Regions from separate parts of the Homo sapiens genome. Here region 2 is linked to region 1. Evidence: fine-mapped expression QTL. A gene starts in region 1. The other region holds a variant in brackets. All regions are shown on one strand. Distances are from middle to middle.

Evidence for each region. PIP is the estimated chance that this variant, and not a neighbour inherited with it, causes the effect.
Region 2: its variant is fine-mapped to the expression of FAM131B in whole blood (INTERVAL, PIP 0.97).

What each region holds. Positions count from the first base shown.
Region 1 is chr7:143,352,934-143,369,007 of GRCh38, forward strand. FAM131B (family with sequence similarity 131 member B) reads right to left here and starts at 9,780. Exons shown (of 7, transcript NM_001031690.3): 1 at 9,643-9,780; 2 at 7,107-7,216; 3 at 6,799-6,834; 4 at 6,393-6,486; 5 at 5,894-6,091; 6 at 4,347-4,490; 7 at 467-4,089. The coding sequence starts at 9,670. The coding sequence ends at 3,617. It overlaps FAM131B-AS1 (FAM131B antisense RNA 1), which reads left to right and starts at 8,773. Exons shown (of 3, transcript NR_183342.1): 1 at 8,773-9,124; 2 at 10,257-10,324; 3 at 10,968-11,332.
Region 2 is chr7:142,546,167-142,562,240 of GRCh38, forward strand. It overlaps TRB, TRBV11-3 and TRBV12-3. Among named protein-coding and RNA genes, the nearest start is that of MIR11400, 80 kb to the left of the region's middle. The variant TG/T (reference allele first, on the strand shown) is at 8,748.

The DNA.
Region 1 (16,074 bases):
CTGCCAAAGGTCAGCTCTACCCTGGAGCTGCTCTAGCCAGGGCCTCTCCTGCCAAGAATCAGGGCTCAGAGCAGCTAGGTCACTGGGTCACTCAGACACCAGCCCCCTCTTAGACTGGTTCTTCAGATGCCTCTCCTAGGGGTGGAGAGTTAGGAGCTGAGCGTCAAGATGGCAGGGCTCTTGAGTGCTGCCCCGCACTTGGGAGAGTCACATCTTCACCCTCCCCAAATCAGCAGCAGGAAGCCTGGCTATGCACTCCATTAGCGTGCTTTCTCTACAAAGAGAGGCCAGGTGCTGTGAGCATCCCCAAACCCTTGCTCCGTACCCAAGGTTTTTCTCCCCAGCCTGCCATCCCGTATGCCGTTCTTAATTCTACCATTGTGCCCCCGCTCCGACATTCTCCTCCTTTGCCTCCCCTGTTCCCAGTCTCCTCCATCCCCCAAATAAGACACTCACAGTCAGAGGATGCCACCACATTCTGTTTAGTGTCATTGAACACAGCCTGTAGCCTTCTCCAGCATCACATCCCTCCCACTTCCCCAGGCCAAGAGAGATGCTGAAGCCTGGGTGGGGGACTGGCAGTGGGCATTTGAGCCCATGCCCTTGTGTACATAATCTCTAATATTTATATATATTGATATAGAATTCTCTCTATAATATATGTCATAGAATCTCTCTTGGGCCTGGCGTGGGAATGTGACATTAAGAAAACATGCTAAGACTGGCCAGAAAAATGGATATTTCCCAGACCTGGAGGATGGTGTGTGGGATGTATAGGTGAGGTCGTGGAGAAGATAATAAACTCATTCCCCAAGATACCCTCTTCAACACAAGGACAAGAAGGAAGGTGTGTGGTGGGGGAGGGGACAATGGAGGGGGAGGAGTGGAAGATTTGGATTTTCATTTAATAAAGTCAATTGAAAATGAAAGTGCACCCCCCCTCCAAAAAAAGAAAATCATTTAGCAAGAGCAGTTTCATTCACAAGAATATAAAAACAGCCCTGTTCCAGGACTGCTGTAAAACGTGCTGCACAGCCTTAACCCCAAAGGAAAAGCAACCCTTTCCCACCCCGAAACAGCCTCTTCCTGCACATGCCCCTCCCCACCCCCTGAAATAGACGATAAGCAACCCCCATGCACCCTGCCCCCAGCACCAGAAGAGTCCTAAGATGGTCCCAGGCCAGCTCCTCAGTCTCCCTCTTCAGAGCGAGTAGGAGCTCCTTGCAGAAGACAGACCCCCACCTGACTTCCATCTGCAGCAATATGCCAGCACCCTGGGGAAAGCAGGTTCATGTATGAACCCTGCTAGAGTCCTTCAGATCTTTAGTCATCTTTTGTCAGGGACCATTTGGCTTCCTTGGGAAAGGGAAGGAGGAACGAAAGCTGCTGTGGTCTACCTTTCCTAACTCCCCCGGGCCTGAGCAAAAACGAACTGTAATGAATGAACGCACTCACTAGGTGAGCTGTCCACCGTGGTCTGGGGGTATGATATGGGCACTGAGAGGATGAGACGACAGGAAGAGGTGATGTGGGAATAGCACACATTGGAGAAGGTGAGGAACCAGGGACCCCATGGAAGGAAGGTCACATGAACATGCAAAACCCCAGAGCCTGCAGCAGGAGACGGGTGGGGAATAGCTGCCAGGGCGGGCATGCTAGACCACCTCTCAGAGCTCCTGGAAATGAGGTCCTGGGACATGGAGTCAGCACACGTTAGCAAGCACAAGAGGACTCTTCCCCTGTACAGGCAGCATTCGGTTAGGTGACTGCACCTGCCTTGGTTCACCTTGCCTACGCCCATGTTTCCTCCAAAAACCAACCTCAGGATAACCATTGTCCCCCTTCCATGGAAGACACAGAACCCCCTGCCCTGCTTGCATCCCAGAAGTGTGAGTAAGAGAGTATGAACTTGATGGCGGGACAGGACCATAGATGGACAGAAACACCCCAACTCTCAACCTTCTCACTCCAAAATAATAAGTTCTGGGGCCTGGGGGTGAGGGCAAAGTTTGTGCCCAGGGCCAGGAGAGGACAACAGTGCTCCCTTCCAGCAGAGGATGCAAGTGGTAGGACTCCTGACAGAGTGTGGGTAGGACACAGGCCTGGGAGCCGGAGCCTTGGAAGGGCGTGAGGAAAGAAGGAGATAGGGCAGTGAGCCTCTTAGGCCTCTCTCTCCTACCCGAACTCTGCCTGTGCCAAGGGCTGGGGAGGGGCTACCTGGGCAGTGGCAGGGCCAAGTGCTCTCCAACCCCACAGCACCGCTGCTTTGCTCCGCCCATCCTCTGCCTGTGCTCTCACGGTAGTGCTGGGGCGCATATGCTGCTCAGTCCCCACCAGCATGGATGCCAAGTGTGGGAGGGCAAGCTTGTGCCTCACCATACACCATCCTGGAAGGAAGAATCCGCTGATTTTCCTCTCTTCCTCTGGTAGGAGGCCTGGGGAGGCAGGGAGGACAGCTGTGAGGCTGTTTGGGAGTCCTGGGAGGAGCTGAAGAAGGGGCAGAAAGTGCCGAGTGCCCACCCTGGCCCTCAGCTGCAACCCTGCCTGGCTGAGGGAGTGACAGCACCGGACTCCTCCCTCCACTCCACTCAACCCTGAGTGCCCAAGAAGTTATAAAAATGTAGAAAAGGCAAAGAGAAAAGTGTAAACAGCTTCAGAGGACAGGGGTGAATAAGGGGAGACAGCCCTCATGCTCCCCCTGCTGTTGGCGACACCTGCATCCTGCGTTGGTGTATCCAAGATGGGTGTCCCCACACCCTCCTCAGGCTCCCGGAGCAGGGATGGAAGAAAGCTGAAAGGGAAGCAAGAGCTGGAGCAGCCAGCCCTGGCTGGGTCTTTTCCCAGATCCTTAGGATCTTCCTTTTAGCCATGGGATATTAAAGATCCCAGAGCAAGGGGCTGTGTTTGTTCTTAGTCTCCTCAGTGACTCTCTTGTCTCCGGGCAGGCCTTGATAGAAAGAACCACATCCGTGCCCCCTGTAGATCTCAGCTGCCACATCCACCTCCTCCTCGACTCCTGATCTCAGAAGCCAAATGACCTGCTGAGGCAGCCTCTCCACCCTCCCCATGGACGTGCCCTTCAGGCAGCCTCCCCTGCGCCTGTCCAGCCATGTCCAACAGCCCCTGAGGTCTGTTCTCTCAGTAGGGATGAGCTGGGGCCACAGCCAGAGAAAACAGAGTTGGGAAAAGCAAGAGTGAAATGGAGAAAGGAGGCATTCAGACAGCAGAGTTACAGCTCCTGGAAGACGAAATCGGGGCGTGAAGAACTGAGATCCAGTCTTGAGCACAGCTGCGCTGCCCCCGTCCTCAGGGTGCACACACTGGAGGCTTTGTCGGCACAGACCCAGAAGCCCACAGCCCAGGTCCTTCTCCACAGCCACACCAAGCTCACGGCCATCTAGTTGCCCAGGTCTCAGTTCCCAGGCCTGTGGGTTTCTAGAGTGTAAGCCTGGATAAAATCCCATCCTGGTCCTCCATTTCCAGGAGAGGACTGGAAGCTCCTGGGTTCCCCAATGTTGTCTGCCCAGTTTCAGCTGTACTGCTGGGGGGAGGGAGGGTATGGGTCACAGCCATGGCCCTCAGGTGGGAGTGGAAGGCAGGGCATTGGGGGAGGAAACTAGTTGTTGGCCTCGCCTTCCTCCTCATCAAAGGACTGCACACCTGAGGATGTGACGTCAGACACCTTCCGGCTGAGAGCGGTAGACATCTCAGGGTCTTCTCGTGGGGAAAGTGACTCCAGGTCCCGGCATCCCGCATCCTCTTCCTCCTCAGGTGCCAATGGCCTCTTCTCCTCCTCAGCAGGGCCCCTTGCCAGGTCCACTGCGCCTACCCCCGGAGCCCAGTCAGTGTCTCCCCCCAGCAAAGGTGGAGGCTCCAGAGCAGAGTATCCTGAAGCTGGTTGGGAAGGTCCCATTTCATGCAAGCTGGGTTGTGAGTCATCAAATGCAGGCCCAAGATAGGATCCTGTGGCCGGAGAGGCAATGAGGGACTGATCGCTGGCTTCCCAGGCATCTGACGACCCCAGACAGTACATACCCTGGGACACGTAAGAGTGAGGCCATCCATCCATGGGTGCTTGAGCCAGGGCATCTGGAAAAAGAATCATGGAGGTCAGTGGGGCCACAGAATGTCAAGGGCAGGAATGACAGCACAGACAGCACAAGAGACAGCTAAGAGACAGCACAGAGAACTGGCAGTAAGACACAGAGTGCACAGTGAGTAGGGAGGACAATGGGAAAGCTGAGATGGACAAGGAAGTCTTAAAAGAACGGAGCTGAGTGGAGGCAGCTGAGATAGTTGGGGAGGCCTCATAGGCTCCAGAGTTTGGATTCTGGAACATCTCTCACCCTGACTGTCCATCAGTTCCTGGTAGTTGTCACTGTAGTTGCAGCCCAATGGCTCCTGGGTGGAGTTCACACTCATGTCCTCACCATCCATGGAAGACCAGGCCATGAGTGTGGCCTCAGAGATAGCAAACTGCTCCATGACGCCTGGGGGAAGAAATGCAACAACCACAAAATACCTCAGGGAATCCTTAGACATGTGCGTGGGGTAGGAAAACATCTTAGTGCAGCACTGTTCAGTAGAAATATAATGCAAGCCACTTATATCATTTTAAATTTTCCAGTAGCCACATTTAAAATTAAAAAGAAACAGGTTAAATCAATTGAAATAATAGATCTTATTTAATTCGATATATAAAAAGATTTTCATCTCAACATATAATCAAAATAAAAGTTATTAATGAGATATTTTACATTCTTTTATTTATATGAAGCCTTTGAGATCCAGCTGGTATTTTATACTTATAAGCACATCTCCATTCAGAAGAGCCACATTTCAAGTTCTCAATAACCACATGAGGCCAGTGGCTAATGTATTGGACAGCACAGCCTTTGTGTATGTCCCCAGAGAAGGGAGAATTGTAGGGGACTTCCTAAAAAATCAGATTTAGGATTCCTAGGGGAAAGAGTTAGGGGTCTTCTGATGAGATATCCTAAGAGATTCAAATTCGAGATTTCCAGATATTTATCTTTGGAGGTTTTTAGGAATTGCAGTCTAGAGAGTAGATTTCAAGATCAACAGAGAACCCCCAAGAGAGCATCGTGGGCTTGTGGGTCCACCATAATATAAAACTGAAATTCAAGGGATTGGAAGGAAAAGGGGATGGGTAGACCTGGGGATCCCTATTCTAGTCAAATCCATGAGCGTGTTGAAGCTGGTACTGCTCCTGCCCCCCACCCTACATGTTTGTCACCCTGTTCACTGATATTTCTCCTCCCACCCATACCACCAACTCAATACTTCCTTTCTCTTCCAGACCTATCCCTTTCTAGGCATCTTATTTAGACCTGCACTACAGCTTGGCCACTCTTGTAGGCACACTGCATGCCTGTTATCAGACCTACACTACTTTCCTGGAACTAAACCTCTTCTGTAGGCCTCCCGTCTCTCACACAGTTCCCTTAATCTTCTAGTGGTTGTCACAAGTAATGAGTCTAGTAGGCAAATTCATGACTCGAAATGCTAAAGGGCAAAGGCTAAAAGAGATCCCCAAGGCCTTTCTTTCTTTCAAAGACCAAGGTCTCCCCATTTTTTTCCCTGCACTTGAGGGAGTTCAGGTTTGGATAGTCCCGTGATGAGGAGAGAAGGCATCTGGGATGGGTGGACCCACAAATCCCATCTAATTACACGCATTTTCTGAGATGATTATAAAAATATGTTTGAGGGCACTTATTTGAATTACCACATCAAAATACTTAGAGCTGTTTGGGAAATGTGAATCTACGGTCAAAGTATGGATGGAGCTAATCCTGCCACAGGGGATCAGGTTGGAGGGTCGGTCCCTGGCCATCCTGCAAATGTGTCTCTTGAGGCTTTAGGGTACCTGTACCTGCTAGAAAACGTGCCTCCTTCTCGCCATCGCTGAGGTCGGAGTAGGCATCCGTATCCCTGCGCACGGACTCATGGCTGTGTTGTGGCTGAACAGCTGGTGTCTTCCCCCAGCCCTGCCACTCAATCATGTGGGCCACCCGGCCTTGCCCCATGGCTGTGGGCTTTGTCACATGGTCCTTCATGCTCCGTGAGATCCCTATGGGGCCAGACATTTCCCACATCCTCCAGAATATCACACAATACCCATAACCAGACCCTCCCAGTTCCTCCCACCCCAGCCCCATGAGGCTCCATCCCACTGGGCCAGGCTCCCCTAAGGACTCCATAGATGGGGTAGTGGAGGGAATGGCCTGGAGGATGGGAGGCTTGACAGAAGGGTGAATAGGTCAGGGGGTGGGGATGAGGGTCTTCATCAACCTCGAAGGAGCAGGGAGACTGAGCCAAGGAGTCTGTCAGCATTATTTTGTCTGAAGGCATTCTTACATCAGGAGTCTCACCTGAGAATGATGACTTGGCCAGGGCCCCAATGCCATAGGCGTTAGAGTTTCGCTTAAGCTTCGGAAGAATGGAAGTGGTGTCCTCCATGGAGAGCTGGGATGGGAATGTGGGAGGAAGGGCAGAGGAATAAGAAGGTACGGGCGTGCTTTATACATGGAGGAGGTTCATGGTTTCCAGGAAAAAGCATTCGAGCTAGGGCAGATGATAAGAAAAGCTACTATACCCAAGAGTCCCAAGGAGGGATATATCCCCAGTGCTCTGGAAAACTGGGGCACAGGTTGAGAACGTGAGTGCTCACAGTGCCTATTGGAGCCAGGGAATACCGTGCTGGTTGGAAGGTGCAAGGGAGAAGATGAGGAGGAGGAGTTCGGGAGGATGGGGAGGTCTGGGGGCAGCTGCACTCACGTTGATGCCGTCCCAGGAGAAATCAGTTCGAGTTTGCTGTGAGGAGAGAGGAAAGGGAATGGGCATCCCAGTCACTCGCAGGAATGCAAGGAAGCCCCCTTCCTCAGAGGGCCTTCCAGGAGTGCGGGATGTGGGGAGGGCTTTCCTGAGGTTGATGCCGCTAACTGGGTTCTCCATGTGGACTGCTTGGCATGTGTTGTGAGAAATGTTCTGTAGAAGTGTCAGTCTGAAGGAGTGTTTGGGTTGTTGCCTTGGAATTGAGGAAGTGCAGGCAGCCAGAGACTTGGGGTGGCTGAGTGAGGTCTCACCTCAGTCGATGGCCGATGGAGGCTGCTCCCGTGCAGTGAGCTGGTGCTGTCCATGTTGATTTGATCGACATCCTTCAGGCCCTTCCAATCCACTGCAATCACCTCATTCCCTGAGGGGGCCAGAAGGTTAGCCGCCGGCCCTCACCTCCCTGTGCAGCCGAGGCGACACCCTGGGGCCAGCCCTTCACACCCCTTCCTTACCCCAGCTGCCCATTTCCTCTTATATCCCTGCACTCTCCAAATTCTAGGGGAGACAAGTAGTAATGCTGAGCCCAAATATTCAGTTTTAGCTCAACCCAGAATAGTGCACTCAGAAAAAGTGATGTATGGCCTTATTTGTTGTTGTTTATGTGGAGGGGTCAGAGGTTGGGTTTTATCAGAAAACCAATTATTCCGTCCTGAGGACTCTTGGAGGGTTTCTGTATGGGAGCTGGGCTTTTTCTCTATTACAAGTCTACAGATAAGGGCAGAGCTGCTCTATGAGGAACTTTTCTCTATGCTTAGGGTGGAAGGGATGTGTCTCCCCCGGTGGGCCCTTCCTAAGAGTCCATGAGTCTGACTGACTGGAAGAGGACTTCCTGGGAATCGAGGCAGGAGTTGGATAGCAAGGAGTTGGGTGTGTCCTCCCAAAAACAGTGAGCAGAGAAACCAAGGGTGAGCTGGAGGCATTTCACCTGACTGTGGGGAGAGAAGTGATGGATTAAAGTGGAGGGAAGCTGGTGAGCAGGAGGAGAAAAGAGAACTTTTTAAAATAGGAATTAAGAAAATAGGAATTCAAGTCAGAGAGAAGACAGAAGATGGTGGGAGGGGTGGACAGGGTCTGAGGGCTGAGTGGGAAACTGCAGGACTCAGGGGAAGGAGGGTCCTTGTTACAGCCGGGCCAGAGCTCCTGGTGGAGGGAGACTCCTGGACTGAGGGCAGGATGGTGCCGCGGAGAGTCTTGCGGAAGAACTGCTTGGGTCTTCATAAAGGGACTATTCAAGCAGCAGATGGCTGCCTGAACCATCTGACCGTACAGGCCCTTTATACTCATGAGGTTTTACAATTGTGAGTTTAGGGGTCGGCTCCATTTTTGGGAAGGGGAGCATTGAATGGGGCTGGGCACGAGGAGGCATTCAGCACATCAGCAGGGCTGGGGGAAAGGAAGGGGCTTGTGGTGAACCGGACTGAGGAGGGAGGACCCTCCAAAGTTGGCCTGCTGTCCCCTGGGGCTCCGCGGGGTGGTGACTGGGGGAAAAGAGGAAAGATGGCCCTCCGGACACAGCAGGAATGGGGCAGGTGGAGAAGAGCCTGAGGAGAAGGGAGACAGGGGAGGGCGGGGTGCGGGGGGAGAGGGGAGCGGGAGGTGGCCTTTGTGAGAGACGGAGAGCTGAGTCAGAGCTGTGGGGGGCAGCGGGGAGGGAGAGAGCCGCGGAGAAGGGGTGAAAGCAGAGGAGGAGGGGGTATCCATGGAAATAAACCGGGTCTCAGGGAAATCAGGCTTCTGGAGAGTGAGTTTGTTTGTAATAATAATACGAATTATTCTCTCAGCCTGAGGTCACCGGGAGGTGTAGGCGGGAGAAATTGGGAGTTGGAAAGGGGAAGAATGGGGGAGGGGGTGGGAGAGGGCCGGATGAATTCGCTGAGCGGCGAGAGTGGAGTGGGTGCCTGGGTGGGGGTCAGGGGCGGTAGCCAGGCAGAAGCTGGAGGGAGAAGATGGATTAGGAGGCGCCTCTCTTCCCTCCCCGCGTCAAAGGTAAATAAAGAGCCGGCCCCGCCCCGCCGGCCCCCGCTGACAGGTGCAGGCGGGTCCCCGGCCGCCGAGGCAGGGCCGGCCCCACCCTCCCGGGCCGCGGGCTCCCGACCCCTCCCAGCGCCTCGAAGCCCCCATCTCCTCCCCGCGTCCCCCAGCCCCTTCCCTCCACCCGGCCCTGGCCCTGTCCCTCCGGGCGTGGAACCCGGGCTCATCCCGCCCCCGCCCCAGAGGGAAAACGCACGTGAACAAAGCGAATCGGAGGAGGCAGGAACGACAGTAAAAGGCAACGGAGAGGGAGAGAGAGATGGGGCAAAGCACCCGAGCCAGATGGAGGCGGCGGCGGGGGGTGGCGTGGGGGGCGTGCGAAAGAAACTCGGGGCTGGCGCGGAGGCCGAGGGTCCTTCGCGGGGGGCTGCTCCGGAGTGGGGGATGCGAGGAGGCGCTGGGGACGGCGGAGCAGAGGCGGATGGCCTGGAGGGGCAGGGATGAGGGGACCGAGCGTCGGGCCGAGAGGCAGAGGAGAGGAGGGCGATGGAGAGGATGGAGAGGACCGCGCCTGCGGGAGGGCGACGGGGAGAAGGAAGCGAGCCGAGCGGGATGGCAGCCCCGGAGGCGCAAGACGAGAGCGGGCAGGAAGGAGGGACAGAGGGACCGCGGGCGGACGGAAGGAAAGTGAAGGAGCTAGCAGGGCAAGGCGGGTGCGGAGCGGGGCGCCCGGAGGCGCGAGGAGAGGGATGGGGGAGGGGGTCGGAGGGCGGCCCGGGGGGCCCAGCCCTGCCCCCGCCCGGCCGCGGTACCCACCCACAGTCCGGGAGCCGATGCAGCCCATGGCTCCGGGGGCCGCAGAGCCGGGCCCTCACCGACTCGGGGCGCGCGCCGGGGGGAGCACCGGGAGCCGCGCCGCCGCCCCAGCCGCTCTGCAGCGCCGCGGCTGTCTCCGCTCGGCTCCGCTCCCCCCTCCCCTCTCCATCCCTCCCCACGGCAGCTCCGTCGCCGCCGCCGCCGCCGCCGCCGCCGCCGCCTGGCTCCCCCGCCCCGGCTCGGCTCGCCGCGGCCGGGGAGGGGGCGGCCCGGGGATTGGCTGCGCCCCGCGCCTCCCCGCCCCTGCTCCGGCCGTGCCGGGGCGCTCCCTCGGGGATCTGGGGCCGCCGTCGCCGCCCCCCTCCTCCCGCCCGTGCCAAGCCCCGCTCCCGGGGCTCTCTCCTGGAGAACCCCGGCTTGGGTTTCAGGAGCCGAGGCACGAACCCAGGGCCTACCCCGAGGTTCTGGTTGATGGATTTTGCGGGCCGGGGTCAGGGGATGCCCTGAGAGAAAGTGGGGTGGTGGTGAGAATAAAGCCAGGCCCAAGGGCCTTTGGCCACCAAATTCCGCAAACACTTGTTTTCCTCCTGGGGCCGCATCTGGGACACACACAGGAACGTGATTGGACACAGCTTTGGGCTCTGTTGTTTCGAGTGCGCTATTTTGTCCATCCAAACAGAAGGTGAAGTCTTTGCAAGTGAATCGTGTAGTCCACTTCTCTGTGCTCGCTGGACATTCAGGGGTGGGTGTGGGGATGTGCAGATAGTTGACCTCCAGGCCTGGTTGGGGATTGGAGAATATGAGGAGGACAGTTCATTCGCAGTAGACTAACAACAATGTCAGGACCCGAGGCTGGCTAGGAGACATCGTCTTGAATCCAGTTTAACTTTTCTGAGACGTGATCTTCTCGGACAAATGAAAGCAAGGCGGTCCCGAAGCAGCAAAGAGAGAGAAAGATTGGCCTCTGGCTAGTGGGACTGGGCCAGGTAGATACCTCAAGCCCCATGGGGAGGAGATGAAGGTCTAAGTTGCAAGGGTTAAATGAGCACTGTGGTTACAGCAGGTAAGAAGTGGAGTCCAGAAAAGATGCATGAGAAAGGGCAAGGAGACCCTTTTGTCTAAGGTGTACCCAGAAAGCCCAAAGTGTGAGAGAGTGGGCAGGTGGGCATTCACAGAAGCAAGTGCCCATCCAGGCTCTGACTGCACCTCGCCCACTTTTAGGTCTCTCCGAGGTTGCAGAGAGAGAAGGCAATGGGCCAGGGGTCCCTGGTGTGGGCTCCTAACAGGGAGGCTAAGTCTTATGGATGCAACTTTCTAACCTTTAGATTATGAATGGAGAGCTACATCCCATGGGGTGGCAGATGAAGATGTGCAAGAAGAAGACACTAACAACTGAATTGCAGATTGAGGAGATGAGATTATGGTGACAGAATCCATCTTCGGTGTATGTGCATGAAGAAATAAGCCAAATCTACATCTATAAAACCGCGGGAAGGAATGAGATAATAATCAGTTGCAGGTCTGCTTAGATTTTAATCGTTTAGTGTAGTTCGTGGCAGGGTCTGATACCCTATTTCAATAGTGGAGAGAATTAGAAAGCATTTTCTTTTTTCATATCTACTATTATTGGTTATATAAAAGAAGTATCAAATAGTTTCTGCTTTCATGGAATATACTGTCCAGTCGCAAAGGAAAGAAGATGGAGAGATGATTAAAAAAAAAAAAAAGAACAAACAGCTTCCATTATTCTAGCAATGCCCACACACCCCTATTGTTTGAGCAGAGAAAACGCTGACAGGGGACTGGCCAGGTAAGGAGGAACAGACCACGTGGCCATTATGCTCTTGCCTTCCCACCTGAAACTTCTGTCTCCTTATGGCTCTCCCTGAGTAATACATATATTTATATATGACTACGTATCTCTTACTGTGGTTCCAACTTGGATGCAAACCTCTCCCCTTGGTCTCCTTAACACAACTATATAAGGCTGCATTTATCCAAATGATTTAACATGAGGGATTCCAGGTCTTGGAGACTCAGTCCCATCTTGCATTCTGTCTTGAAGGTATTTCCAGTCCCTCCCCACTACCCACACAAAAAAAGTAAAATATTCTAGGCATATTCCTGGCCAGCTTCCTTCCTGCTCCCTATAGGTCTTCTTATACAAGGATTCTGCTACTTCTCACTAGTTAAGGCCATTGTCCCAGTCTCCTTGCCAAAGAGGTCCAGGGCACAAAAAAAGTTTAAGAACTTCTGGACTTTAAATACATACTTGGCGGGGGGGTTCTCTAATTCTGCAGGGGCTTAACCCCCAAATAAAATGATCAGGCAAGACACTTATCCCATTTTGAAGCTGGGGTCCCCAGGAATAATTGTAGGTACTTCGGTGGTACCTGCAGGATTGAAAGAAGGTACCAAAGCTTCACACTGATCCCCACAAATGGAGAGATGGCTCCAAAACACAACTTAATCAAGTGTTCCTTTTATTTTATTGGGATATATTAGATCAAAGTTAAAGGTCTATGAAAAGATTCAATTGAGAAAGGGAAGCTCAAAGTACAAGAGAGGGGAAGATTAATTAATATTGAATGTAAATTCCTAAAACCACCTGGAGGGATGGGAGCAGAGCTCAGGGAGGGGGATGAGACTGTACAGGAGGAGCCCAGCTCTTCTTCCAGCAGCAGGGAAGACGGGGCAGATGCCAGTGGGCTGCATGTTTGGTGTCAGGAGAATGAGGGATTCCCATCTGACGGCATCTACTTTCTCTGACAAGAAGGAGGCAAGATCATTTATTGAGAGTCAGAATGAGAGAGATAGAGAAAAAAATAAAACTCACTTTAAAGTGCAAATATCAATATACAATTGATTTAAAGAATAGAGTTTTCAGTCTATTCTTCCAAACCTCTAAGAAAGATATTCTTCTTGCATTGCAGTTGAGAGAACTGGGGCTGATAATTCAATTAACTTCCTTTTCCCTAAGATTTCCCAGTTGGAAAGAGAAAAAGCTAGCACTTTTTTGTTTGGCATTTTGTTTTGTTTTGTTTTTGAGACAGGGTCTCACGCTTACCCAGCCGGAGAGCAATGGCATGATCAAAGCTCACTGCAGCCTCGAGCTCCTGGGCTCAAGTGATCCTCCTGCCTCTGCCTCCCAAGCAGATGGAACTACAGACATGTGCCCCAACCCTCGGCTAATTTTTTGTATGTGCCTATTTTAGTAGAGGTGGGATTTCACCATGTTGTCCAGGCTGGTCTAGAACTCCTGGCCTCAAGAGATCCACCCGCCTTGGTCTCCCAAAAGGTTAGGATTACAGGCGTGAGCCACCACGCCTGGCTTACTAATTTTTTAATTTTTATTTTTGTAGATGGGGGTCTCACTATATTGCCCAGGCTGATCTTGAACTCCTGGCCTCAAGCAATCTTCCTGCCACAGGATCCCAAAGTCCTTGAATTACAGGTGTGAGCCATCGCACCTGGCCAAAAAAGCCAGCATTTAAACTCAGCTCCTCAGAGGGAAAATCTATTCTGGATGTTGTAGAAAGTGCTTTATTTGTTCACTTAAAAAAACTAAAGTTACTCAACTCAGGACATTTGAATGGATACACGTTCTTTCACGCTTGTCTTTTTTTAATTAAGGTGGGACCATAAACTGAAGAGAGGAATACATCTATCTACATTTCTAAATTTTGAAATGGGAAAGCAATGATCTTTCTTCAGAGTGATTTGTAGCAATAAGTCTTTGGTGCTTTCATAAAATACTGATGATAAGTGTCTTAGTCCCTACTTATCAATGTCCTTGTATGGTGTTAGAGTATCTATCTTCAGGCAGCCCTGAAGATCAGTCAGCTTTGGGGCACTCCTAGTGGTTCTCAAATACCCTATTTGCTAAAGGCCAGAAGTGAGAGTGCTGATGCTGGAAAACATTGGTAAGAATAGTCTTGGGGACTAGGTGGAAATCACGAGGGTCAGTAACAAAGGTCTGTATTCTTTTTTTTTTTTTTTTGAGACAGAGTCTCACTCTATCACCCAGGCTGGAGTGCAGTGGTGAGATCTCGGCTCACTACAACCTCCACCTCCCAAGTTCAAGCAATTCTACTGCCTTAGTCTCTAGAGTAGCTGGGACTACAGGCACCCGCCACCATGACTGGCTAATTTTTGTATTTTTAGTACAGATGGGGTTTCACCATGTTGACCAGGCTGGTGTCGAACTCCTGACCTCAGGCGATCTGCCCGCCTTGGCCTCCCAAAGTACTGGGATTACAGGTGTGAGCCAATGCACCTAGCCTGAGGTCTGTTTTCTTTAAAATGAGAATGATTTCCTAAATATTCAGTCAACAGGAGGACCAAGAGTGGGGTTTAGGGGCATTAGGTTGCTGACAAGGGACCCCATTCATACACAGGGGCAGACTCAGAGGCAAGTCATGGATGAGTGCAGATGTTTGTAGTGTGTAAGTTGTATTCCCACATAGTAGGAAGTGGCCATAGAATCTGTCCTAGTGGTCGATATAGTTCTCCCCCGACCCCTACCTGCCATCCCCAGCTGGTTTCCCAGAGTAATCAACAGATGAGGGTCCTGGCCATTGTGCTGGGGCACAGCAAGTTTGCTGAGGAAGGATGGCTCAGCCAGTTAGTTATAGAGGATGAGAGGGTCCATGGCAGAAGTTCTGTGGTTTCAGCGTTGGTGGTGGGGACAAAAAGCCCTCACATTACCAATCTCTGATCTGTTGGACACTATGAAAGAGACCAGCACAGGACATGCTCATTTGACTTTTAGACAAGGTTTGAAATCTTGTAAAATATTGGGGATCTAAGGTGAGCTCACTCCCACTTTTAGTTAGAAAAGAAAGCTTATCTCTGGGCACGGTGGCCCACACCTGTAATTTCAGTACTCTGGGAGACCAAGGCGGGCAGATCATGAGGTCAGGAGTTTGAGACCAGCCTGACCAATATGGTGAAACTCCGTCTCTACTAAAAATACAAAAATTATCCGAGCATGGTGGTGTACACCTGTAATCCCAGCTACTCAGGAGGCTGAGGCAGGAGAATCGCTTGAACCCGGGAGGTGGAGGTTGCAGTGAGCCAATATCACGCCACTATACTCTAGCCTGGGTAACAGAGCAAGACTCCATCTCAAAAAGAAAGAAAGAAAGAAAGCTTATCGGCATGGGCAAACGTGGCAGGCACATTCTCCTTAGTGTAGTCCCCAGGCGCACACCTCCATGAGCCAAAGCCCTCCTGCATGGGCAGGTCAACGTCCCCAAATCACGTTCTGTAGGATTCAGCAGAAGAGAATGCCCAGACAACTGCTTCTTTGGTGACTGTCATAGAGCCTATGCTTCAGATGACCAAGGGGATGCATTTGCCCTGTGTTTTCTTTGGGAAGCACATTTGTGGGAAAGCCTGCAACCCCTACTGCAGATTTAGGGGTTCCATCCAAACATTCTGATAAGAAAGGCCAAGCCAGCAGATCGCGCCTGCATATCTGCCAGAGAGCCTGGAAGAATGTCAGCGCTTTCCTGCTGCTTCCTGGTCAGGTCCCAAGCACACACAGCACCTCAGGGTGTCCTCACCATGACCAGGCCACAAGCAGCAGCGACCAGGCAGGATGCCAGGACCAAGGAGGCAGGGCATAGAGTCTGGGCAACCATGAGTCAGAGGCCAGGTGGGTAGTAAAAAATGGAGTTCATAAATCCCAGAGAGAAGAACCAGATGGGATTTTTAAAGGTCAAGCCAATCCCAGAGCACTGACAAAGAGAGGGAAAGATCAAATAAAGAATACAAGGCAGTTGTTTGTTCCAGCCTCAGTAGGCCTATCTGCCAGTTTTATATTCCTTCCTCCATGGAGAACCAATGAGAACCAGGAACTGGAAGGCTTGTCCTGATTGTCTCCGATGCCTGCCTGTCTAGTATTTATGAACTCAGGGGAGAGGGGCAACAGATGTCATATCACACCTCTGAAGCCTCCCTGTCTCCCCTGCTGGGACCCTTTAGCCCTCACCTGTATGCACATTCCTCTAGGAGAGAGCTCCTGCCTTGTGCTTACAAGCCATCCTCCCCAGCTTCTGCCTCTGAACCACAGCCTGATGGTTGAGGCTCTATTACTACCTGTCAGACTTCTCTATCACCAGGCACAGCTGACAGCCTACCTCTCAGATTCCTGGATATATTTTCCTTCTGAGTTCCCCAGTTCTTTTCCTTTGCTAGCTTTTGGGATATCCTGCAACTTCAGCTTGGATTCCTCTTACAAACACTTGTTTGGACGGAGATCTGTTTCACCTACAAAGTCTAACTACCTGAAACCTTTTATCCTTTCCTGCAACTGATCCTGTTCCTAAATAATGTGTTTAATACATAGTGGGTAGATGTAGCTCCAGTTGGCTATGTCTTTATTTAAGTGAGCCAATCAAGTCCAGAGAAAAAACAGTGAAGGCATTT
Region 2 (16,074 bases), 810 kb before region 1:
GTCAGGAGATTGAGACTATCCTGGCCAACATGGTGAAATCCCGTCTCTGCTAAAAATACAAAAATTAGCTGGATGTGGTGGTGTGTGCCTGTAGTCCCAGCTACTTGGGAGGCTGAGGCAGGAGAATCACTTGAACCCAGGAGGCGGAGACTGCAGTGAGCCAAGATTGCGCTACTGCACTCCAGCCTGGCAACAGTGTGAGATTCTGTCTCAAAAAAAAAAAAAAAAAAAAGAAATAACTTGTGGCACTGTGAAGGGAGTCCTCAAGTAGACACAGAAATTAGCTGCAAAGACTCATGGGATATAGCATACAGTTGCACTTATGGTTAAGATTTATTACAGTGTCATAGTAAATATTCAGCAGCGGATCATATGAAGAAAACACACAGGAGGAATCTAGAGGAGTTCACACATTGGCTTCCTTATGCTCTCTTCCTCCCGGGAGGGGTCACACAGAGCTCACTTCTTCCAGCAACAAAAATGCATTAACACGTGTGCAATGTTTCTGCCTGTGGAGCTCATCAGAGACTCAACACCCCAGAGGCTTTAGTGGAGGCCAGTCATGGAGGCACTCACTGCCTAGTATGAACCCAAAATCCACAGCCCAGAAGGAAATCTGGTATTCAGCACAATACTGTTTGCAATATCAGTCTAGGCACAATGAGCTACTCCTCTCGGTTAGGAGAAACTATGTCAGTGCAGGGCACTGCTCACCAGCCAGCTTCCCAGATGTCAGCCAAATGCCAACCTCACAAGCAGGACTTTCTAAGCACCACAGTCTCAAGCCTGCTGTTGACTGTTTTCTGTACAGATACCCTTCAACTCTTTTGCCATGCCCTAATAAACCTGGGAGCTACGCAATACAGATTGACTAATGATAATATGGAAGCAGCCTGGCTCACTGGGTCATAATTTGGTGAAAAACCATGAAAGAAAGCTACTTATGGCCTGCTGGGCTTTGTGGACATGGGAAGTAAGACTTCATAGAATTAAGCCAATGAGATTTTAAGATTTATTTTTATTTTTTTTTCTGTAGCATAGCTGTTCTTATCTAATAGAGTTAGTATCTACAATGGGTAAAGCATTCTCATAACTTACTAAGACAATCCAATAAAATGGCAATACTTAGTCTAAATAGGCATTTCACAGAAAAGTAAACATAAATTAACACTAACATAAAAATAGGTTCTTGGGCTAGGTGCAGTGGTTCATTCCTGTAATCCCAGCACTTTGGGAGGCTGAGGTGGGCAGATCACTTGAGGTCAGGGGTTCGAGACAAGCCTGGCCAACATGGTGAGACCCCATAGCTATAAAAAATACAAAAAATTAGCCAGTCATGGTGGGATGTGCCTGTGGTCCCAGCAGCTACTCGGGAGACTGAGGCACAAGAATCACTTGAACCTGGGAGGCAGAGGTTGCGGTGAGCCAAGATCACCCCCTGCACTCCAGACTGGGTGACAGAGCAGGACTCCGTCTTAAAAAAAAAAAAAAGAATAGGTTCTTAACCTCACTTAGAATCAGAGTATTCCAATCTGAAACAGTAAATTATGAATGCAAACTTATCAGATTTTGAAGACTGGAAAGTCTTCAAAGAAATGATAGTCCCAAATATGAGAAAAGATGTGGACTAGTGGAACTGTATTATACTACAGAAGAAAATTATAACTGATATGGTTTTGTTCTGTGTCGCCACCCTCATCTCAAATTGTAATCCCCATGTGTCAAGGGAGGGAACTGGTGGGAGGTGATTGGATCATGGGGGTGGTTTTCCCTGTGCCGTTCTCCTAATAGCGAGTGAATTCTCACAGGGCCTGATGGTTTATGAGTGGCAGTTTTCCCTTCTCTTTCTCTGTCCTGCTGCCATGTGAGACGTGCCTTGCTTCCCTTCTCCTTCTGCCATGATTGTAAGTTTCCTGAGGCCTTCTCAGCCATGTGGAACTGTAAGTCAAATAAACCTCTTTCCTTTATAAATTAAATTACCCAGTCCCTGGTATTTCTTCATAGCAGTGTGAAAACAGACTAATACAATAATTATATCAGAAAACCCTTTCTGAGATATATTCTGACAAGCAACATTTTGAAACAAATTAGCAATATAGTTGACCCTCTATATCAGCTGATTTGGAACCCAAGGATACCAAAGGCTGACGGTAAGGAAGGTGGGCACCCTTGGATTAGGATATCAGCAGGGTTTCCTGGAACCAATCCCCTCAGGATACTAAGAGATGACTGTGTGTTTAAATTACTTGAGTTCCTTTCATTGTCTTTAGGGTCCATCATGGAGAATTGAGTTGTCAATATTTATTTTAGCCATTTTGAAGGTTTTAATTGATATTTAAAAATTAACACTTAAAAACTGTGGTTATACATATATGTATAACCATGGTTTTACATATATATATATAATATATAGTATATACATTACCACAGTTTTATATACAAATATAAAATACATATTACCACAGTTTTTAAATGTTAATTTTTAAATGTTTTATATGTACATAAAACATACAATTTTTCACCTTAACAATTTTAAAATATACAATTAAGTGGAATCACGTACATTCACAAGGTTGTAGAACCATCACTGCTGTTTCCAAATGTTTTTCATGATCTCAAAGAGAAACTACACCCATTAAGCAATAACTCCATCTTTCCCATGCTTCTCAGCTTCTGGTAGCCTCTAATCTACCGTTTGTTTATATGAATTTACCAACTCTAGATAGTTAATTGATGGGAAATTATAAAATATATCTCCCTTTGTGTCTGTCTTCTTTCACTTAGCCTAATGCTTTCAAGATTCATCCATATTGTAGCATGTGTCAGAATTTTACTCCTTTATATAGCTGAATAATACTTCATCGTGTGTATAGACCACATTTTGTTTATCTCATCATCAGCTGATGGACTTGTGGGTTGTTTCCACCTTTTGACTATTATAAATAATCTTGCAATAAACACTGGCCTACAAGTATCTGTCTGCTTTCCTGCTTTCAATTATTCTGGGTGTATACCTAGGGGTGGAATTGCTGAGTCACATGGGAATTCTACATTTGACATTTTGAGCAACTGCCCAACAGTGTTTTACAGCAGCCTCAGCATTTTATATTCCCACAACAGTGTAAAAGCCTTCCAGTTTCTTCACAGCCTTGCCAACACTTAATTTCTGTTTTGTTCTTCTTTTTAAAAATTATTACAGCCATGCTGGTAAATGCGAAGTGATACCTCATTGCGGTTTTGATTTACATGTTCCTAATAATTAATGATGTTAAGCATCTTTTTTTGAACTTTTACTTTAAATTTGAAAATTGTATTATGTATACTTCAGGTACATAACATGACATGATGAGATACACACCTATAGGAAAATGGTTACTATAGTGAAACAAATTAATATAGCCATCATCTCACATAGTTACCCATTTACTCCCTGTGGCAATAACAGATATAATTTACTCATTTGGAAAAAATTCTGAATATATGAACTATAGTTTTCATGTGGCACATTAGATCTTTAGACTTCTTCATCCTGCCTATCTGCTATCTTGTATCATTTGGCCTAAATATTCCCATTTCCTATTCCCTCCCCCTGCCATCCTCCCATTAACCACTATTTCATTCTCTCTGTATATTTGAGTTTTTACAAATTTCACATATAAATAATATACACTATTTCTCTGTGTCTGGCTTATTTCACTTAGCCTAATGTCCTCCAGGTTCATCTATGTTTGTTGTGGTAAATGGCAAGATCTCATTTTTTTTTTAGGATCAAATAATACTCCATTGTATATGTATGCCACAGTTTCTTCATCCATTTGTCCATCAGTAGACACTTAGGTTGTTTCCATATCTTGGCTATTGTAAATAATGCTGCAATGAACATGGGAGTGCAGATGTCTCCAAAAGGTGGGATTTCATTTTCTTTGTGTATATACCAAGAAAAGAGATTGCTGGGTCATATAATTCTATTTTTAATTTCTTTAGGAACATCTACACTAATTTTCTTAATGAGTGCATCAATCTACTTTTCCACCAACAGTGTATAAAAGTTCCTTTTTCTCCACACTCTTGCAACTTATCTTTTTAATAATAGCTATCTTAATGGGTGTGAGGTGCTATCTCATAGCAGTTTTGATTTTCACTTTTCTAACATTTAGTGATATTGAACATCTTGGCCATTTTTATGCCTTCTTGGTAGAAATGTCTGTTTAGGTCCTTTGCTCAGTTTAAATAGGGTTATATGTTCTCTTGCCAAAGAGTTGTATGGGGTCTTTATATATTTGGTATATTAATCTCTTATCTGACATATGGTTTGCAAATATTTTTTCCAAATCCATAGGTTGCCTTTTCATGTTGTTGATTGTTTAATTTGCTGTGCAGAAGCTTTTCAGTTTGATTTAGTCCCATTTATTTTTGCTTTTGTAGCCTGAACTTTTTGTATGATATCGAAGAAATCATTGCCAAGGCCAACGTCAAAGAGCTTTTCCAACATGTTGCATGTAATAAACTGAACTTAGATAGAAGACCTAAACATTAGATATTAAGCATCTTTTCATATATTATTGATCATTTGTATATCTTCTTAGGAGGCAATGGCTTTTCTTTTCCAGTTGTTTTTTAGTTTTTCTTTGTCTTTAGATTTTAGTAGTTTTATGATTGTAAGGCTAAATGAGGTTGGGGTTGAACTTCACTTGGGAGATTTGTCGCTGTTAGTGTTTTTAGTGCATATTCTGAAACATTTTTAATAGACTGTACAACAGAGAATAAGTAAATTCATTGACATTACTGGGAAACAGAGTTCTTACAAAGGGAAGAGAGATACAATAAGAAATAGGGAAAGACAAGGAAGAAATCTGCGGTGTTTATTTGAATTGGAGGTATCAATATGAACTTATTATTTAAAAATTATGTATTTCCTAACTCTAACCATACAATATGTAAGAAGCAATATGAAGTCGATGGACAATTGCTTTATTTCTTTGTACTTGTGTTCCCAGTAGTAATGGGCAGAATTATTGCATGTTATTTAATTTCTAAATGTTTCTAAAAGAAACAAAGCAGAAATGGCTTCTTCTAGATCCAGAGCAGGGAAAGTCAAAAACATCTTTTGGCAGAAATCAAGGAAGTTTCATGACCCAGAAAACATAGAAAAAAGCCACAGAACCAGTTTCATGGGGCTCCCAGTAGCCAAACACGAGTATCTAAACATTAGAGCATAATAATGAGGACACTGAATTATAACAAATTTTAAAAATCTATAAGGCTATAATGACAATAAAAAGATGTAGGTAAGAATGTCTTCGTTACAGAATAATGCTAGTTACTAAATTTCATTAGAAAATCAATGTAGCCATTAATGTAGTTACAGACAGAGACCATCAGTTGATGTCAAAACCAACATCTGAAAGGTTATTGGAGACCAAGATATCTATATTGTGTCAAAGTATCACTCCACTAATTGCTTATTAACTATAAAATATAAATGATATCTTTGCAATGGAGAGATCTGATGTCTGTGATGTTAAATTTAGTATCGCCAAAAATGTGTAAAGACAGCATTATATGTTCTTGTAATTGATCGGATGCAATGGGAAACACACATCAACTATGGCATGGTATTTGCCAAAATATTTAACCTCTGATAATGTGGAAATTCTGATTGGGGGTCATTTTACCAGTCAGCTGACATGGACTCTTACAAAAATCAAGACCATGAAAGTTGGAAAATATAAGTGGGCCAAAGAGATGTCTAGTTTAAAAGTAGCTAAAAAGACCTGACAACCAAAAGAAATGCATAATCTTTGATAATGTCCTGTAGAAAAAAAATTAAAACCAAAGGACACATTGGTACAACTGGAGAAAGGGGAATGTGAAGCATATATGAGAAAATAATGTTATATGAATATTAAGTTTTTGAGTGTAATAAAGGCATTTGTGGTTTTCTAAGATAATGGCCTCTTTTTAGGAGAGACATACTGAATCGTTAAGAATAAAGTGTTTTATTTCAGAAATTGAGGGTAAAATACACAAAAAGAGATAAAGCAAATGTCAAAAGATGTTAATAATTGAAATACATTTTAATATTCTCTTTGTTGTATGATTCAGCTCTTCCAAAAGTGTCAGTTTTTTAAACAAAATTAGAAGAAAAAAATCTTAAGATCTTGAAATGTTGGCATGATTTCAGTTTTGTGGTGGCTATTTATTATATTCATTTTCAATATCTTTGAAATATTCTATAATTACCATAAAACAAACACACAAGATAAGGTTTCTTTTAGCCCTATAGTGTACTTTTTCTATAGGGACAGGCTATGATTTTTAAAAGTCCCCCCAAAAGATAAGAGAATTTATAGTCTGAGGACAAAATAGCTGATATCTCTGAGATGAGCACAAAACTTAGCTAACAATGCATGTCAAGAAGCTGTTTAGTAAATACACAGGACTGTTTTAACTGAAACAGGAGATTCTGAGTTCCCTACAGGTTGGTCAAGAACTCACAGATGTTGGGGAATTGCCTGAATGTAAGCAGAGGAGTGGTAGTGCTTGTCCTAAATTGTGGTTGGATAATATGTGTTTGTGTAACAGGGAGGGGGCTCTAGCAGGACTGAAACACTGTCTGTGGGGAGGAGTCTCTAGCAGGACAGAAGGATCACATGGAGCTGGAATGAATTCCCTTCAGTCCCCCACAAACACTGTCTGATAGTAGCCCTGATCTAATTTCCATTGTTTAGAAGTCCCACCACTCTCCCTGAGCCATGGCTGGAGGGCCTAAGCCCAGTGGCTCTGAACCATTGGCCATCAGGAGGCACTGAGGTTTGATGGCGTCCAAATGTTTTTGAAACAGGGCTAAGTATTGCCTGAGAAGTTGAGTTTAAAGGAAAAGTGTGGCTTCATCCTAGCATTCAGTATCTAGTTTGCAGGTGTTTTGAGTGGTCAATGGAAACTCATCTTTCTCCACTGATGCCAGTGGGTTCTGTTCGGCAGTGAAATCTGAACTGTAGCAAACCATTGAGTGGAGAATCTTCTGAGCCCACTTGAGGGGTAGATGGAGGAGAGCCAGGAGCCAACCTGAATGCTCACAGACCCATGCAGAGGAACAAGTGCCTCCTTGGGAGAACATCAGAGAAACCTTAGCACCTAACCTATTCTAGTGTGTCCTGGACGATGGACAGGAGAATGTAAGGGGAATGTAGAAGATGGGAGTGGACAACTGTAGATGTTTCCAGATATCTCAAATTGCAGTAACACCACAAATATTCTTAACAAGAACCAGATTTTCCAGAACTCTGGCATTTCCTTCCCTGAGCAATGAGACGGCCCTTTGGGCCCTGACACAATCATGGGTGTTTTTTGTTCATTTGTTTTGGTGCTCAGGAAGCAGGGGAGGCATGAGAATACCTGGGGAATGTCTTTCCTAGAAATAGGATGCCCCAATTTCAAGTATTTCACATGCAGCTTGATAGGTCCTGTCTCCAGCCACCCAGCCTCCACTCTCTCAATGCTGTTGTCATCCAGGGCCCTAAGCTCTGGTCACACGGATGGAAGAGGTAGTGACACTGTGATGTGAAGACACTTTCCACCATGAAATTATTAATTGGTGTCAATATAAGGCAGGCTCCGACTAGCAGCTTTTCTACCACAATGATAGACAATTTATATGGAAAAGAGATGGTTCTGATAATTCTACACTCACAGGTCTTCACCTGATAACCTTGACATGTGTCCCCTAGGTTTTAGGAACTTGGATTTCTTTAGGCTGAGTTGTACTATTCCCTTTCTCTGAACACACATGTCATTGGTTAGTTCATTCATATTGATTCTCAGGACTTCTCCAATCCCTCAAGCCTTCCCACTCTACCACTCAGATAAGGAGAAGTGTGTCTTAACTAATGTTGCATAATTTTTTAAAAATTGCTGGATACTAACACTGCAATTCAATTGTAAAATATGATAGAGGTGTAAGTGTTTTAGATCCCAGAAGTCCTGCTCAATTTTGCATTTATTGTTAGATATTCACCCTGATATTTTCAGGAATTAGAGTGTTCTTCATCCATTTGGGTTAAGATATCAGAACTTACTTTCAATTCATTGGTGACCAGAGACTACAGGCAGAATCATAGTGAAGGCTTGATACATAATACATAATGAAGATTGATAACAGCAAAAAGGGAACTAGTCATTGGCCTTCAGATAAAATGAAACCTCCCAACTTTGTGCTCAGGGAATTATTTTACCCCTTTAGGTTAGAGTATGTCAGCTAGTTCAATGCAGTTCTAGGATAAAGCTGTGTCAATTACCCTAGAGGACTGGGAGCATGGAGGACCTGGTAGAAAAGAAATACCCAAAGAGAAGGAAAATTACACATAAAATCAAGAGGTCACTAATTGATATATCTATTTTGAGTTGCCTTTGAGACTTCCACGTAGAAACATCTAGCACAGGATAGGCCTAGAGATGTAGTGACAGATCTAATCCCCCAAGCCCTGAATATGTGAGTGAGGACGCTTGGATGAACTTCCAGTCTATGAATACATTAAACAAACTTTTAGCTCTGTTTTAGTTTACAACAACTGTTTTCTAAGAACTTAAGCATTTGTGGAGACAATGATGTCACTGTAGGAACTTCTCTGTAAGGACAGCAACATCCCACTTCCTCTGCTCCTGCTCACAGTGACCCTGATCTGGCAAAGCTTCCATCCTGCCCTGACCCTGCCATGGGTACCAGGCTCCTCTGCTGGGTGGCCTTC[TG/T]TCTCCTGGTGGAAGGTGAGTCCTAGGAACACCATGATCCTCACATAATCTCCCAGTGATTATTCTAGTCATTTCCTTCTATTTTAAAATTCTTTTTCCCCCACAGAACTCATAGAAGCTGGAGTGGTTCAGTCTCCCAGATATAAGATTATAGAGAAAAAACAGCCTGTGGCTTTTTGGTGCAATCCTATTTCTGGCCACAATACCCTTTACTGGTACCTGCAGAACTTGGGACAGGGCCCGGAGCTTCTGATTCGATATGAGAATGAGGAAGCAGTAGACGATTCACAGTTGCCTAAGGATCGATTTTCTGCAGAGAGGCTCAAAGGAGTAGACTCCACTCTCAAGATCCAGCCTGCAGAGCTTGGGGACTCGGCCGTGTATCTCTGTGCCAGCAGCTTAGACACAGTGTAGCAGAGACACTTCCCTCCTGTGCAGAAAACCGCAGGACTCTCTCCTCTCTACTCAGCTCACAGCAGCCTTTCCTTATTCCTCATCCTCCCAGGAAAGAAGTGAGTTTTCAGATATAGCTAGGATTCATATAGTGGGAGGAAATGAACTATTTCTTACAACATGAGCGCTATAATTGTTGCTTGAAAATGTGTCTCAGGGATTTGAAACACTTCTTGGGGACAACTCAAGAAACCTAAAGTGACTTATCAGAGATTGAGTCCTCAGGGGTAGTGATGGTTTATCTCCCATAAAAGTATGTGATCATGAAACATGTACAATAAACTTAATAATACAGATAGTGATTATACCAAGCAGCAAACAGCAGGCTCCCCTTATGTAGTTGTCAGCATGTGAATGACTTGTTACCCTTAGTGACACCCCGGCTGTCTAGCAAAGTCTCAACACACAGTATGTGTTTGGAAATCTTTTTCCTTCTGTTTTATTTTTGGTAAAGTATGCTAATAATGATGTTGTTAATGATAGTGATTATAATTTCAGGTATGTTATTCAGCCCTTTTTCCAGTTCAAAGAAATGCACACAAATGGATACCCCGGCAACCAGGTGCAAATCTTAGCTCCACATGAATTCTACTTCTCCTGAACTCTCTAACTCTTCTATGTAATCATCCCAGCCCAAGAATATATCTAGACCTGGACCAGTCAGTTCAGAGGACATTTCTACGTGTCTGCCTTGTATATTAAAAGTTCCTTAGTGGATTGAAATATTCCTTGTAAGAACTTCTGAAGCAATCAATTGCCCTCTCTGATAATATACACTCTGTGTGTCTAGCTCCATATTCATTACTCTACTTCTGCCTAAACTCTCTAATACTAGAAATCTTTCTGAAGTATTGGTTAGAATTACTTAAAAAGCAGCATACTGGAAATTGTCTGAAAGCACTGTCACTGTCCATTTGCCCCTCCTGACTTCCCTCCCCTCCTTATCCAATCTAATACCTGATGGCAAGTCAGGCTTTATTTCCATTTGTTCATTGCACATCTCCCTGTCCTTTATTCCTGTAATAAAACCTCACTGATGTGATGGATTAAAATGACCACTCACTCACCATCTCCTTGTCAAAATTTCTATTTTTTTCTTTTCCCAATCTGCTATGTTAGTTATAGTTAATAACTCCCTCATAACATTTTCTGAGATCACTTTTTATTATTTGAATATAGGACACACAGTTGTTTCAGAGTCTGTCTGATCATTTTCACCTCTAAGATCTTCATAGGATATTTTTGTGATTTTCTTTTTGTGCTGCTTCTCAGTTATGGTGCTTGAGTTTTCATGGCATTTGTATTTCTCCTTACCAATCTGATGATGTTTGACACTTTGCCAAACACTATAGTTGTAGAAATAATTTTGGGGGTAGGATGGATATTTTTCTGCAGAGATCATTTTTCTGTGCTTCTGAAAGTGCATGTAGATATAAACAGTCAGGCTCCCTGAATCACAGTTTAAGGCTTGAGGTGTCCTGGAGCATCTGGAGAACAGGTTTGTCTCTGGCTTATTGTTACTAGTGGAATTTGGCAATGACACGTTCGGTATGTTCTGGGCTTTGCCTTTACCCCCGTGGCCTGTGAGTCAGCTTCCTGAGTGCTGAGTCAGGATCTGCAAATGCCCGCTAGGGCAAATGGACTGCTGTGCTCACCTCCCGGAGCTCTTGCCCTCACCAACATTCCAGCCAAATTATTATTATTTTTTTAGGACTTTAACTAAAATTTTTAATGTTGTTTTTGATATTTTTTTTCCAACTATGTAGATAACAACAGAAAGAGTGAGTGCCATTATCCTTAATTATTGGGATTAAGGTGAAAATAACTTTACCTGGAATTCTAATTTTCCTTGTATTTTAATGTTAGATTCTTTGTGATTTGTCTAATATTCAACTTAAATGGTATAGAGATGTTAAACTCTGATATCAAATACTTTAAAAAAACTTATCAAGACCATTCATAATCCAATTGAGACATATCTTTGTTTGGGGCATGTTGTTTTTAGAGTATTCTTCTACTGTTATTTATTTCTATCACATAACCTCTGTGTTCCATTGGACCATATGGCAAGATGGGAAAGACAATCAAGAGAATGCTGAGATCTGGTCAAATAGTACAGATTGGGCTTCAAATTAATTTAATTACTGAGTTCTGGGGGTGGATTTGTGCTGTTTTATGAGTATTTCCTGGGGCAATGGTCAAAATTAGAGGGAGTAACTGATATGTGGCTATTGTTTTACCCCGTTTAAAGCCAATCTCCTGGGACAACACACCCCATTTTGTGGGGCACCCCGAAAGTAATAATCCTGTTTTAATCTTCCTATTCCTTGCCAAATCTTCTCTACAGAAGGGAAATCAGTTATACTATTTCCTCTCTTCATTTTAGTTTAGTCTCTCCTTATTTTCCCGTTTTCCTCCTGGTTCCCTAGAGAAAAGTAGATTATTTTCAACATGTGCTAAGATCAGTGAGGAACTCTCTCTTCCATGCAGGGTGGCCTGCAGTTTGGAGGGGATAGGGAATGGGTTAAATTCTGTTTCAGCATCATGTTAGCCAGCCCATCGAGTTTCACAATGAGACCTGCTGCTTATCAGTATTAAAACTGACATTATGTTTCCACCTTTCTGACTGCATTGTCAATGTCTGGGGTGTTTCTGTCCTACCCCATAGCACTAATATTATTTGTTGGCCTTTTAACACCAACTAATCATAATATCCTATATCCCTTGTACTCAGTGAAATAAAGCTCAAGTCCCTGTGTCCTGGCAAAAGAGAGCACATTTGTGCTGTTCTGGCCTACTGGCCACTAGGAGGCACTGTGGCTTCGATGTCATCCAGAGTCTATGGGGAGGAGCTGAGATTGCTCCCTGGAAGATGGTTAAGAATAACCCCGAGGTTGGACCTAAATTCAGGGAGTTGGTTTGCAGATGTCTTGAATGATGGCTGGGAATAAAGGAATTAGTAACCGACGCTTCCTCCATTGTAGAGGTGGGTTTTGCTTTAAATTGTGCTTTGAGTGGGGCTGAGTGACAGGTGTACTTTGCAGTGCATATACCTCTGAGCTCGCTTAAGATGTAGGGGCACAAGGAGCTGAGGTGGTGCAGGGCCCATGTTCTGAGCTTGGAAAACCAGAGAAGCAGTTCTTGTGTCAAAAGAGCCTTGGAGAGCCTGGCCCCAAACCAGCCCAGGCCAACCCTACCTGCTCTGTGAGAGTAGAACAGCAAGAAAGGGAGGTGCTACCCAGGACCACAGCAGAGGGACCCTGTCGCCAGGGAGATGAAAATCACAGTGATGCCACGACCATATCCACGTATGAGGCATAGTCCAGTGTGTCTCCTGGAAGAAGATGAAGCCTGGGCAGACATAAGAATATGTTTTTGAATAGGCTTCCCTTGGCCTGATTTTAAATTCCTTCCATGTGATCATGCATCTGTCTGTACCTGTATTTTGTACCCGGCTTCTGCCTCTCACCCATCAGTCCCATGGCTACTAGAAGGTATTAAATTTCTATTGACAAAAATTACCACTAATTTGGTGGCTTACAACAATAAAAATTTATTATCTTACAGTTCTGGAGGTTAGAAGTCCAAAACCAGGCTAAAATCCAGGTATTGGCAGGGCTACATTCCTTCCCGAGGCTCTCAGGGAGAACTATTTTTCTCTCCTATTCAGCTTCTAGAGGCCACCAGTGTTCCTTGGCTCATGGCCCCATTCAATCTTCAAAGCCAACAAGGACTGGGTGAGCCTTTGCTCACTCTGCATCACTCTGACACTCACTCTTCATCCTCCCTCTTCCACATTTTAGGACCCTTGTGATTACATTGGGCCCATCTGGAAAATCCAGGACACGCTCCCCATATTAAGGCCAGCTGATTAGCAACCTTCATTCCATTTGGAACATTCGTTTCTCCCCTTGCCACATAATTTAACACATTCCCAGTTTCTGGGAATTAGACATGTACATCTTTGAGAGGTCGTCACGCTGCCTGCCACACTTGCTACCTGGTTACACGAAGTAGTAAGCAATTAACTTTTTGAAGGCAGAATTATGGCCATAGTTTTATATCCTGGATCCAACAGACCCTGCAAAAGGATAGAGCCCACATGGAAATAGCCCCTCCAGTAACACAAGCTAGTCTGCAAACTAATGCCCTTTTACTTTGGGAAGTGCTTTTGACTGCAGGGGACTCAGAAGCATGCCTCTGTGCCAACAGCAAAAATGTGCCCTTCTCTTTTGTTGGCAAGTAACTTAACCAACCAACCCAAAAAAAAGATCTTTCTCTCAGCTTTCCATAATCTCTGAGACGAAGTAGGTTTGGAGAAGTGGGGTTACAGGGGAAAAAGCCAGGTGTTAATGATGAAAAAACATTGAACTTTTCTAGGGGTAGTAATAAGATTTAATTCAAGACTAGAACATTTTAGCTGCAAATCTTCAAGAATAAGACAATATTATCCCCTTTCTGTTTTATTGTGGGACTAGAGAATGTGAGAGAGGTTACATTCCATGGGCTTTGGGAATTTAATATGGTTCAAGGATAAACACACCCAGGTTTTTCACTGCAGAGAAGAGCTTCAAATATAATCAGTTTTCAGGTCATCAGCTCAGCTCTTGTATCCCTAACAATGCAGTTGACATGCGTCTTCTCAGATGTCTAACTCCTAACTCACTGAGGGATACTTTAAGTACATATAAAGGACTAGAAGCACCAAGCTACCAGTGAGAGGAAGAGGAGAGTTTGCAGAGAAGCTGGCTTGAAATAAGACAATGAGTTCATCTTTAAATACTTGCCATTTGAGGTGCAGATGGATATAGTTGGCAGGCTCCTATGTAAGGCATGTTATGGAGAAGCTACCGTGAATTGATAATATCAAAACAAATATCCAGGGAGCCTCTGCAAGTGTGCATCTCTATTTCACACCAATTATAGTTGAGTTAATTCCTGCCTGATTCATCTCCCAGAGATGCAGCCTCCTCTTAAAGAAGTTGGGGGTGGTGGCCCATTCAGTGATGTCACTGACAGATGCATTCTGTGGGGATAAAATGTCACAAAATTCATTTCTTTGCTCATGCTCACAGAGGGCCTGGTCTAGAATATTCCACATCTGCTCTCACTCTGCCATGGACTCCTGGACCTTCTGCTGTGTGTCCCTTTGCATCCTGGTAGCGAGTGAGTCTTCAGAATATTTGCCATCATCAGGCTGGGCTTCTGCATGGATGATCTCATATATTTTCCTTATTCTGACGCCCAATTCTGTCTTCTTTCATAGAGCATACAGATGCTGGAGTTATCCAGTCACCCCGCCATGAGGTGACAGAGATGGGACAAGAAGTGACTCTGAGATGTAAACCAATTTCAGGCCACAACTCCCTTTTCTGGTACAGACAGACCATGATGCGGGGACTGGAGTTGCTCATTTACTTTAACAACAACGTTCCGATAGATGATTCAGGGATGCCCGAGGATCGATTCTCAGCTAAGATGCCTAATGCATCATTCTCCACTCTGAAGATCCAGCCCTCAGAACCCAGGGACTCAGCTGTGTACTTCTGTGCCAGCAGTTTAGCCACAGCGCTGCAGAATCACCCCTTTCCTGTGCAGAAAACCCGGTGTTTCCCCTTCTCCTTCTACCTCCCAGCAGTCCTGGGCAAAGTCTCTGCTGTTCCTCCCTCCCTATGAGAAAAAAGTGGTTTGGGGGTATGAAAAAGACAGAAAATGAGAAGGGATCAACATAGGAAACCTTATGTTGGTTTGAGGATTACAAAATGGGTTTTGAGGATTCCTTAAAAATTGTCTCTGCTCAAAACACATAGGAGTAAGATAAACCTTGGCTACTGACACTGGAGATTTCCCTGCCCTCCTGCATTTGCCATCCCATGAGAATGGTGGGGGCTCTTGAGAAGGGCTGCATTTTCTGAACTGTGAGGCCCTCTTCATTCTCTCCTAACTCTAAGCTGCAAACAGAAATTTCCCTCACACGTTTTCTAGATTGTAAAAGAAAGTTCTTCTTTACTATGATTGTGGACGTTCCTTTATAATGCCAATTTCAACTTTACATTACTTCAGGATTTTTCACTACTCCTAAAGAGTGTCTCAAATGTGGCTAGAGCAAGCAGGTTAGTACACTAGATGTAAGCTACCTGGCCTGGAATCTAAGGATCCATTTGTCTCTGTTCTGCGTAAGATGAGCCGGGTGCTGGCCAAAGGCTGTGCACACTCACAGAGCACTGATGACGCCTCCTGGTAAGGACCCACACTGGGGTATCTAAAAGCAGACAGGCATGTCCAGTCTTCTGTTGCCCTGTTTCCTTTCTGATTATATGTCCTTAACACACAAATTTACATTTTCCTTCTTATTTATATGAGAAGTTTCTATACAATACCTGCAATCCATTCTGAGTGGTTATAATTTCTGTGTGATATTCATATTTACATGCTGATTCCTTCTAAATACCTATCATGGTATCATTGACAACTGAGGCAAAAGACCCCTATATTTTGAGTGCCCAAGGCCATTGAGGTTTTTTGGAGCTCTGCCATAAGCCCAATTCCACTGTGTCATTTTCCTATTTTTCTTTCCTTTTTTTTTTTTTGATTAGTGGGTCCTGACTTTCAAGATGAAAATAGTGCAGAATTCCTCCCTGCTGCTTCCAGATCATTTTCCTTCCTACTTCTCTAAAGCCCAGCTGCATTATAGGCTTCCTTTAGCCTGATTTTAAATTCCTTCCATGTGATCATGCATCTGTCTCTACCTGTATCTTGTATCTGGCTTCTGCCTCTTACCCATCAATCCCATGGCTACTAGAAGGTATTCAATCTCTGTTGACACAAATTACTACTAACTTGGTGGTTTACAACAAAAACTAATTATCTTAC